4 separate regions of the Homo sapiens genome follow, and all the other regions are linked to region 1. Evidence: fine-mapped expression QTL. A gene starts in region 1. Each other region holds a variant in brackets. All regions are shown on one strand. Distances are between the middles of the regions. Region 1 holds the start of SLIT1 (slit guidance ligand 1). Region 2 overlaps ARHGAP19 (Rho GTPase activating protein 19). Region 3 overlaps ARHGAP19 (Rho GTPase activating protein 19). Region 4 overlaps ARHGAP19 (Rho GTPase activating protein 19).

Region 1 (2,685 bases):
AGCCAGCAGCCTTCTCCAAAGCCCTGTTCAAAAATCTCCTGGTGTAGTCACCTCTGCGAGCAGTACAAAGGCCCTGCATGTGACCAAAATCTACACACACACAGCCCATTACGGGGACTCTCATGGCCTCACGCTATTAAGGTGGCCCCTTAATACTAGGAATTCACACAGAAACACATTCTGCAGGAGAGTCACAGAAAACAAAGTATAAAGGTCTGTAAATACACACACTCAAACACACCCAAACACACACACACACATTCTACTAGCTTACTGGGTCTAGAAAAGAAAAGGATCAAGTTTCCTCAAGAATTCACAAGTGAGACAGAACAGGGGAAGAGAAATGCTATTTTTTTATTACTTGTCATGGTCAATATCTTTAACCTTGGGCCCCCCTCTCCAAGCTCCTGACTTCTTGGCATTATCCACCGGGTTCTCCATCCAAGACACACCTGCCCCTTTTCGGGTGCTGAATGTTACATACCCCAAGCCCCATACCCAAAGCCCTCAGGTCCCATTGTCTGCCTGTGTTGGGGATGGCTGGGTGTGGAGGGAGGCGGGTGAGTAGGGGACCAACGCGTGGCACCTGCAGGGGAAGAATTCTCAAGGCTCTGGGGCAAACAATGGAGAAGAAGGGGCAGACCAGAAACTTCGCCTCCATCCCACCCTGCTGCCCTTCGTCAGGAGCAAGCTCTGGGAGCGGGAATCTGCGCAGCTGGCTCAGAACGCGGCCGTAGCCCCATGTGCCCAAAAGGAGACATTGTGCTTGGCGAGTGTGGGAAGTGTCCCTCCTGGGTGCAAGGAAGGCTTTCTGACACCAGTTCGCAGGCACCCTGGAGGAATAAAGCGCTGGCGCAGTGAGGAGGGCCTGAGGGTGCGGAGTGCAGGGTGCAGGGTGCAGGTGTGAGGACGGAAGCTGACAACCCCGCCGAGGGCCCTTTGAATCCCAGGGATGGGGAAACCACGGCGCTCCTGGCTCCTGGCTCGGGAAAGACCCCGGCAGGCACTGACCCGTCTGTGGGCTGCGGAGCCCGGACGGGCCCCAATGGTCCTGCCCCCACCCCCAAGTCCGGAATTGCGTCTGGGTGGGAGGGCAACCTCGGAGCCAGGGAGCCAGGGGCGGGGACCATACTCACAGGCGCTCGGTGTTCCGAGGTATATTCTTGGGAATGGCCTGCAGCCCCGTGCCGTGGCAGTCCACCGTGGTTCCGGTGCAGGTGCAGAGGGCGGGGCACGCCGAGGCACCCAGGCGCCACGCGGCTGCCCACAGCAGCAGCCAGAGCTCCGGCCGGACCGGCCCCGCCGAGGACCCCCACCCGGGAGTCAGCGCCATGGTGCCCTCACAGCGTCCCGCTCGCGAGCCAGACGGCAGCAGCCGCTGACCATCCCCGTCCGGGGCCGCCTCCAGGTGCAGTCCCGGGGCAGAGCCACCGAAGAGCCCGCGGGCTTGCGCGCGGCGCCCCTGCGGGCTGGGAGGCACCTTGCTCCTCCAAGCGACGGCGCCTGTGCGCGGACGGAGGGAGGGCGCCTTGGGCGGAGGGGGCTCGGCTCCTCTGCCGTTTCGCCGCCTGCGTCTCCCTCTCCCTCCCTCCAGCTCCCAACTGACTGCTGCGAGGAGGAAAATGGGCAGGCCCCGCGCGCGCACGCACCCTGCGCACACACCACACACACACACACGATCACACACACACCCGCGCGCTCGCTCCCACCCGGCAGTCATCCATCAATCGAAAAGCACACATCCAGGGCCAGGCTCCTCCCCGCCCTCCCCCGCCGCAGCCCCCCTCTCCCGACGACCACTCAGCGGCTGCAAGCCGCCTACAGTTTCAAAGGTGGAACCTCCGAGGCGCCGTCAGCGGGCACGGGGCTGCGGGGGATGGGAGAAGAGGGAAGGGGGTGTGACTCGACCCGCCAAGTCCTGGCTGTACACACACACACACACACACACACACACACACACACACACACACGGCGAGGATGCGCACATTTAGACGCACGCACCCCGGCACCCGCGGCCCCAGCTGCTAGTCCAGGGTGGGAGGGAGATCTTATTTTGCCGCTTGGACGCCTTCCCGGGGAGTCAGACCCGTTTCCCCCCATCCCCCGACGGCAGCAGCGGCCTCTCGGCCCCACCCGACTCGCTGTGTCAATTCTTGGTTAAGGGAAACCCTGTGCCTGTGCCCCAGGTAGCATCCTCAAGCCACCAACCTTACTTAGCCTGGACTTTGAGGATGGAGCTTTGTCGGGGGGGAGGGTCCACGAAAGCGCTAGGCGGAGTACAGTCTCCTTCCTACCTCAATGCACCCACTTCTCAGAGGGGAACAAGCTAGCCGCATGCCCAGGATGAGAATGGCTCTGATTGGAACACTTGCTCAGCAGGGCGTATTTGTACCATACAGTTACACGGGCTTCTTCCCCCGTTGTAGAAGAGAGGGACAGACATTAAGGGGACTTGGAAATCTGGCAAACGTCTTCCTCCACTCACACCAGCGTTCCTCCATTTCTGACAGGTGGAAACAGATGAAAATGAATATTCCATCTTGACATCAAAGGAGACAGAGAGGGCTGGCATAGCGCTGGGCGGCCTGCTTGGGAGAGAACCCCACAGGCCAGCCCCGTCAGACCCAGGCCTCACACCCGGCTGGGTAGGGACCTTCGTCACCGTAAGGCATGTGTGGACGTGGG
Region 2 (2,685 bases), 66 kb after region 1:
ACAGGAGTGAGCCACCACGCCCAGCCAGTTTAATTTCTAAATTGAAAAACTATAAAACGGAGCTTAAGACCAACAGAAATTTTCTCCAAACAAGAATATATCTATTCTATTTCATTTAAAAAAAAGAAAGAAGGCCAAGAGCGGTGGCTCATGCCTGTAATCCCAACACTTTGGGAGGCCAAGGCAGGAGAAATGCTTGAGCCCAGGAGTTCAACACCAGCCTGGGCAACATGGTAGTACCCTGTCACCACAAATAATAGAAAAATTAGCCAGGCATGGTGGCACGCACCTGTCCCAGCTGCTTGGGAATCTGAGGTGGGAGGATCGCTTGAGCCTGGGAAGTCAAAGCTGCAGTGAGCAGATAGCACTACTGCACTCCAGCCTGGGGGGCAGAGTGAGACCCTGTCAAAAGAAAGAAAATAAGGAAGGAAGGGAAAGGGGAAGGGGAAAAGGAAGGGGAAGGGGAAGAGAAAGGGGAAGGGAAGGGAAGAGAAGGGGAAAGCCAAGGGGAAGGGAAGGGGAAGGGAAAGGGAAAGGAAGGGAAGGGGAAAGGGAAGGGGAAGGGGAATGGAAGGGGAAGGGAAGGGGAAGGGAAGGGGGAGGGAAGGGGAAGGGAATGGGAAGGGAAGGGAAAAAGGAAGGGAAGGGGAAAAGGAAGGGAAGGGGAAGGGAAGGGGAAAGGGAAAGGAAGGGGGAGGGAAAGGAAAGGGGAAAGGAAGGGGAATGGAAGGGAAGGGGAAGGGAAGGGGAAGGGAAGGGAAAGGAAGGGGAAGGGAAGGGGAAGGGGAGGAGACGGGGAAGGGGAAGGGAAAAGGAAGGAGAAGAGGAGGGGAAGGGGAGGGGAAAGGAAGGGTAAGGGGAGGGGAAGGGGAGGGGAAGGGGAGGGGAAGGGGAGGGGAAGGGAAGGGGAAGGGGAGGGGAAGGGAAGGGGAAAGGAAGGAAGGGGAAGGGAAGGGGAAGGGAAGGGGAAGATGAAGGGGAAGGGAAAAGGAAGAAGAGGAGGGGAAAGGGAGGGGAAGGGAAGGGGAAGGGGAAAGGAAGGGAGGGGGAGGGGAAGGGAAGGGGAAGGGAAGGGGAAGGAAAGGGAAGGGGAAGGGAAGGAGAAGGGAAGGGAAGGGGAAGGGAAGGGGAAAAGGGGAAGAAAAGGAAAGAAACAACAAAAACCACCATCCCCAAAGATGCTATGAGCTGAAAAAATATCCAGAAAGGGCACCAGGCTTAGACAAATAGGCTTACATGAAAGTCTGAGTTCTTAAGTATTTTACAATTCATAGAGAAACAACAAGAAATTTATAGAGAAACAAGAATTTTACAATTCATAGAGAAACAACAGAAGGACTGCTCAAGTATTAGAAATTGGCCTTAACTGTATATACATTGTAAATCTCTAGGAAAAGATGTGGTGTTGGGAAGAGTTAAACCAGACTGAAAGAGATGGACTGATAACAGTAGAGGACAGAACTAGTAATAGTTAAGAAGAATTTTAGGAAAAATGATAAAGCAGGAACATAGCAAGACCTCATCTCTACAAAAAATTAAAAACTAGCCAGGTGTGGTGGCATGCGCCTGTGGTCCCAGCTAACCAGGAGGCTGAAGTAGGAGGATCACTTGAGCTCAGTGAGCTGTGATCATGCCACCACACTCCAGCCTGGGTGACAGAATGAGACTGTCT[C/CA]AAAAAAAAAAAAAATAGCCCGGGCGCGGTGGCTCACGCCTGTAATCCCAGCATTTTGGGAGGCTGAGGTGGGCGGATCATGAGGTCAGGAGATCGAGACCATCCTGGCTAACATGGTGAAACCCCGTCTCTACTAAAAATACAAAAAAAATTAGCCGGGCGTGGTGGCAGGTGCCTGTAGTCCCAGCTACTCGGGAGGCTGAGGCAGGAGAATGGCATGAACCTGGGAGGCAGAGCTTGCAGTGAGCTGAGATCGCGCCACTGCACTCCAGCCTGGTGACAGAGTGAGACTCCATCTCAAAAAAATAAATAAATAAAAATAAAAAATAACAGATGCTGATGAGGATGTGAAGAAAAGGGAACTCTTATACACTGTTGGTGGGAATGCAAATTAGTATAGCCATTATGGAAAGCAGTATGAAGACTTCTCAAAAAACTAAAAATAGAACTACCATATAATACATCAATCCCACTACTGGGTATGTATTCAAAGGGAAGAAAATCAGTTTTCAAAGGAATATCTGCATCCCCATGTTTATTGCAGCACTATTCACAATAGCAAAGATATGTAATCAACGTAAGTGTCCATCAATGGATGAATGATAAAGAAAATGTGGCGTATATACACAATGGAATACTATTCCGCCATAAAAAAAGAATGAAATCCTGTCAAATTGCAGCAACATGGATGGAACCGGAGGCTATTAAGTGAAATTAACCAGGCACAGAAAGACAGATATCACATGTTCTCACTCATATGTAGGACCTAAAAAGTGGATCTCAGGTTGGCTGCGGTGGCTCACACCTGTAATCCCAGCACTTTGGGAGGCCGAGGCGGGCGGTCAGGAGTTAGAGACCACCCTGGCCAATATGGTGAAAACCTGTCTCTACCAAAAATACAAAAATTAGTCCAGTGTAGTGGTGCGTGCCTGTAATCCCAGCTACTCGAGAGGCTGAGGCAGGAGAATCGCTTGAACCCAGGAGACGGAGGCTGCAGTGAGCTGAGATTGCAT
Region 3 (2,685 bases), 36 kb after region 1:
AGAGTGTTTATTTCTATTCAGGATTTAAACAACATCTTTGTCATCAAAGTAGCTATGTCAGCATCAATAACCTGCTGATTATAAAATTTACCCTTGGCAGAGAGAAAGAGAATTAACCTTTAATGAATAATTGCCATCTGCCAGCACTGTGTAAAGCTAGTGATTCTCAGTATTTTAATCGTCAAGGATTCCTCTGAGATTCTCGTAGAAGCTATGAAATCTCTCCCCTAGAAAAATGCAAATGTACATAAAATTTTACATAGAATTACAGGGGCAAACTATTGTCCTGAAGCATAACCACAGACCTTAGATTAAAATCCTCCATGCGAAGTCCTTGTTATTGAGATGTATACCGTTCTCCCCACCTTACAGATGAGGGGACAGGAGATTCAGGGACTTACCCAAAGTCACATACCTAATAAATTGCAGCCATAGGCTGGGCACAGTGGCTCACGCCTGTAATCCCAGCACTTTGGGAGGCTGAGGCGGGCATATCACTTGAGTACAGGAGTTCAAGACCAGCCTGGCCAAGATGGTGAAACCCCGTCTCTACAAAAAATACAAAAATTAGCTGGGTGTGGTGGCACACAGCTGTAGCCCTAGCCACTTGGGAGGCTGAGGTGGGAGGATCACCGGAGACTGGGAGGTGGAGGCTGCAGTGAGCCAAGATCGCACCACTACACTCTAGCCTGGGTGACAGAGTAAGATGCTGTCTCGAAAAAAAAAAAAAAATAGCTGCTATAGACTAAATGTTTGTATTCCCACAAATTAACTTTGAAACCTAATCTCCAATGTGATGATATTAGGAGGTAGGGTCTTTGGTAGGAGGGGTCTTTGGGAGTGTCTTTGGCAGGGCCCCCATGAATAGGATTAGTGCTCCTCTAAAAGAGGCCCCAGAGAGATCCCTTGTCCCTTCCACCATGTGAGGTTACAGTGAAGACGGCTGTCTGTGAACCAGGGAGTGCACCCTCAGCAGACACCCAATCTGCTGGCACCATGCTCTTGGACTCCCCAGACTGCAGAACTGTAAGAAGCACATTTTTGATGTTGAGAAGCCACCTAGTCTATGGTGTTCTGTTAAAGCAGCCCAAGCCCACCAAGACAGCAGCAGGAACATTTCAACATGAGCTGTCTAAACACACCTTCCTGCCTCAGATGAAAACTTCATCTAGGTTTTCCTGTTATTGTAACCATCACTCCTTGTTTTTAAATGAAGAAATAAAAATTATGTGAGAAACTGAAATCTATGTGAAGCATTCTAGACTCAGCCATGGGAAATTAGGAAGCTCAGGATCCCAGAGGCTCCAAATCATACTTCTTATCAGCCAAAAGCCCCGCTCCTCCTGAACCCACCCACCCACCTAAAAACAAGCCAAAGAGGAGCCTTTCTAGAGGCTTCACTTTCCTCAGAACAAGAGAAAAACTCTCTCTTCAACATCAACAGTCAAAATGTGAA[T/C]AGACCAGTCAAATCCTCTGGATATGAAACAAAACAATTTTAATTTCAGAATATTACAAGAATATAAAAGAAAGACAATGCATAGGATCGTTTCTTTACAATTACATATACATAGTCAAATAAGAATGAAAACTTTAACCAAAACACTTAAGAAACCTTGTTTCTCTTGTTGAGCAAGCTCAGGGATAGGACAAAGGCAACCCTTGCTCTGCAGAAAGAACCCTGGGGTGAGGGAATATTTCCCCCAACAGGTTCTATCTGTCCCCAGACATGGCCAGGGGAGGGCTCCATGGCTCTTTAGCACAGGCTGTGGCCTCACACACTCCAGTCTCCATGGTAACCCAAGCACTCAGGCTATTATGTCCCACACCTCCTCGCTGGCCTGCTTCTGTCAACTCTACGCTGGTAGAAGATCTCGGCATTAGCTGTCTGGGGAAGCTAACTTCCTACAGTGGGTTTTAGTTGAGTTAATCACCACTGGTGTAAAACGCTTGTGCATCTTAGGAACCCAAATCTTCCCCAAATTCTAGACAATCCCACAAAATGCTAGTATCTAGGTTTAGATCTAGGTCCTGTCTTCCGTTTGAAGCCTTCAGGGTAAAGGAGGGCAGAGATAAGGCTCTCTCCTGGGGAAAGGAGTTCTACACAAAAATGACCTCAGAATGGGGGCCATTAGCCTCAAGCATCTGTGTGAGGCCTTGTAGGAAAGGAGACAGAGTCTAGAGACATCTATTCCTAAAAATCACCTGGTTGCATGGCCAGTCACTGTGGGGCACGTTCCCAGTGACCACAGGTTCTCCTAGACGGCAGTATTTTCAACTGCATGCTAACACAGGCTGCTGTGAGGGAAACTGAACAGAAACGTTCCTACTCAGGAGGAGAGAATGGCTCTGTTCTGACACTCTAGGATCGACTGCTTCCTTACAGGTCAACAGAACAGATACCTCCGGAGCACCCAGGTGTCACTGCAGTCAACAGCCCTCCACTAGCCCATTTCCCAAGGGTGTTCCCTTGTCCTTCCTGAATGACTCTGGAAGGACATTCTGGGTAAAGAGCTTTCCTTTGCGGAGGATCAACTGTAGTTTTGGTTACGATTCATTACCTGCTCCTTTTTTTACGGTTCGTTACCTGCTCCTGTTTTGGCCCTCAGGTACAGTCAGTATCTCCTGATGCTCTTTCACTACTACAGCAGGGTTTTTCACACCAGATTCATTGGTCCCAATGCAAAA
Region 4 (2,685 bases), 44 kb after region 1:
TGTAGCCTTCAAAAATAACTTATGCTTGGTTTTGATTCATGGACATACAGAAATATTTAGACACAAAAAACTCAAACCCCCATCTTGTCTCAATTAGACAGCCCAGCCTGGAAGACAGAAGCAACGAGGAAAGAAAAGAGAGTTTAGATAATTCATTCAAGGATAAGTAAGAAGAATATACTGAAATCTAATTTTCCAGAAAAGAATTTATCCATAAGGATTAGGCTTTTGATCTCTGCCTATTGCTGATGTCTCAAATAGTAATTATGCTCATATCCCAGTGATAAAACAATCATGTCAAACCAGACTCACTTCAGCTGCCACATGAGCCTTATATAACAAGACCAGGTTTCAGCCCGTTTTCTACAGTAACAACTATAACCACTTGTTAATGATTTAACAATGACAATGTGCTGCCAAAACATTATTTCAATTGAGCCTCATAATAAATTAATAAATCTGTGAAGTAGATGTAACTTTTATCCTCATTTTCAGAGGAGAAAACTTGAATTCATAGAGAATGGGTGGTTTTCCTGGGTCAGAGGAATGATAACTCCCATCAGGACTAACCACAAATCTCACGGTCTTTCCATTGACCCACTTGGCTCCTTCAGAGGAAGGCACAGCAGGCTTTTACCAGAAGAGCCTGGGACAATCAGCAGTCCCAGCATTAAATAGTCCTCTTTGTCCTAAATAGCCCCCAAAATATGCTGTATGATATGACTTCCAGGATCCTTAGGCACGAGCTGTTGATCTAGAAAGCTTCACTAATTAGGGCTGGCCTACACAGAAAAGGAACCTAACTATTCCATAAGCATACTCCCAGCACTGTTGAACTTGGTTTCACAAATTCATTTACACTTGTTTTTAATTTGCTTCGCAAGTATTCTTAAGGTATTTTCCCCCATGTGTCCTGTCTGTCCAAGAACACAGGGACCATGTGGGTCTGTGTTCACAGCTCTACCCTTAGCACCCAAGACAATGCTGAGTAAATGGTTCAATAACCATCTGGTGAATGAACTCAAGGGCAAGGACCTGGCCTTGTAATTTTTATGTCACTTCTGACTACAAATGTACTATCCTGGGAATTCAAACAAATGCTACTGACTAGATGCAGAAAGGAATTACATTTAGTAAGAACAGAGAGTAAGTACAATTAGTACCTTTTTTCCCCTCTTTCTTCCCTTCAGACCACTTCAATCTTGTTGGTGTCATCGTGACAGCTGGAGAGCCAGAAAATAACTGTAATAAGAAAATTGTACAGTGGTTTCAATGTTCTAATGCCATTCCTATAGACAGACTTTACTAACAAATGAATTATTTGTTCAATTTCAATGTGAAGAGTTTTTCTGAGACTGATGTATTTATATCTCATTAATCTTAACTGATTTACTGCTGGCTTAATGAAGTAGGCATGCCTAGGATATCTTGAACCACCACCCCACAGGTAATATAGAGCCTAGGAGGCCTGGCTCAAATGTCACCTGTGGAATCTTCCAGTAAGAACTAATTGCTTCCTCCAGCACTTGTTTAAGGAGCTACTGTACTGTACTACTCATCTGCTTGTGACTAGTGATATCATTCTTGAATTCAAAATGTGTTTGTTTGTTGAATGAGTCAATGAAAACCAACAGAAAGAAGGTAGCATAAATGAAAGGATTGAGAAAAAGCCATTTGAATGGCCCAAAGAAACACAGTAAAACAGATGACAGT[A/G]TATCAATTTTCCTCTTTTCTACAAATATATACAGACAGACAGACAGTCCAAAGAACAGTGTCTTACTAAGTTCCTATTTTCTTTGCTGGTTCCCTTCAATTCACCAATGGCCACAGATTCTGGAGTAGGGTTCTTCTTTTTCTTTTCTGACATCATCTGATTTCCCAGGACCTTCCGCTGATTTAAGAACAGAAAACATTTGATTTATAAACACCTACTGCATCTACAGTGGAGCTATACTAGCCTTCAAAACTGTAATGTCCTTGGGTTAAAAAAATCTCAGCATTCTGATAATCCTGTATGGACCCTCTCAGGCCATCTTATACAAGAGAGGCCAAAGCATGTTACCAAAAAAACCCAAAATCATTACTTTTGTTTAAGTGATCACTTTTCCTCCACATTTAAAAGGGCTGAAAGGTTAGAAGCAACTTTATAGTTGATTTAAACAAGCTAATATAGGTCAATTACAGTGTGCCTCTGAGACCAGTTACTCACAATATAGAAACACCAGTTACTCATCATATAATTTTTTTCCCCAAAGATGTGCTGTCTCTGGCAACTATTTAAAAAGTCCCTCCCCCCTACTTACCACTGAGGGATACTTAGGCTGGCTCTTCTCTAAGGCACTTCTTCCTCCCTGTCATTTACTCACACAGGACTGGAACATTTGGAGACATTCTATAAGAGTTCCTAATATAGCCACAAGAAGGTAGAGGCCTTCTTAAGGGGGTCACATGACTGTACTGACATTCAGAGCAAGACTAAAAGCCCTTTCATCTCTGAACAGCTTAGAAGATGATGTAGTTTAGGTAACCGCCAACAGTGACAATTCTACCATCTTTGGAGAAATTTTTTTTTCCCTTAGAGAATAAATTTGAATTCTAAAAAAAGAACATATCAAAACTAGAACATTAAACCCTGCATTATAAATATGAGCAGCAATATTCAGAACATTCTGATTTAATAAATAA

Evidence for each region.
Region 2: its variant is fine-mapped to the expression of SLIT1 in neutrophils (BLUEPRINT, PIP 0.95).
Region 3: its variant is fine-mapped to the expression of SLIT1 in whole blood (TOPMed, PIP 0.94).
Region 4: its variant is fine-mapped to the expression of SLIT1 in gastroesophageal junction (GTEx, PIP 0.99).

The regions. Positions count from the first base shown.
Region 1 is chr10:97,184,342-97,187,026 of GRCh38, forward strand. It overlaps SLIT1 (slit guidance ligand 1), which reads right to left and starts at 1,618. Exons shown (of 37, transcript NM_003061.3): 1 at 1,137-1,618. The coding sequence starts at 1,333. The region is part of intron 11 of ARHGAP19-SLIT1 (ARHGAP19-SLIT1 readthrough (NMD candidate)); the gene reads right to left. RefSeq lists enhancers at 1,462-1,962, 1,963-2,463.
Region 2 is chr10:97,250,652-97,253,336 of GRCh38, forward strand. The region is part of intron 6 of ARHGAP19 (Rho GTPase activating protein 19); the gene reads right to left. The region is part of intron 6 of ARHGAP19-SLIT1 (ARHGAP19-SLIT1 readthrough (NMD candidate)); the gene reads right to left. Among named protein-coding and RNA genes, the nearest start is that of ARHGAP19, 41 kb to the right of the region's middle. The variant C/CA (reference allele first, on the strand shown) is at 1,673.
Region 3 is chr10:97,220,701-97,223,385 of GRCh38, forward strand. ARHGAP19 (Rho GTPase activating protein 19) reads right to left here. Exons shown (of 12, transcript NM_032900.6): 12 at 1,479-2,685. All of the region lies in intron 11 of ARHGAP19-SLIT1 (ARHGAP19-SLIT1 readthrough (NMD candidate)), which reads right to left. All of the region lies in intron 2 of LOC105378447 (a long non-coding RNA gene), which reads left to right. Among named protein-coding and RNA genes, the nearest start is that of SLIT1, 36 kb to the left of the region's middle. The variant T/C (reference allele first, on the strand shown) is at 1,457.
Region 4 is chr10:97,227,984-97,230,668 of GRCh38, forward strand. ARHGAP19 (Rho GTPase activating protein 19) reads right to left here. Exons shown (of 12, transcript NM_032900.6): 10 at 1,781-1,891; 11 at 1,164-1,242. It overlaps ARHGAP19-SLIT1 (ARHGAP19-SLIT1 readthrough (NMD candidate)), which reads right to left. Exons shown (of 15, transcript NR_037909.1): 10 at 1,781-1,891; 11 at 1,164-1,242. All of the region lies in intron 2 of LOC105378447 (a long non-coding RNA gene), which reads left to right. Among named protein-coding and RNA genes, the nearest start is that of SLIT1, 43 kb to the left of the region's middle. The variant A/G (reference allele first, on the strand shown) is at 1,714.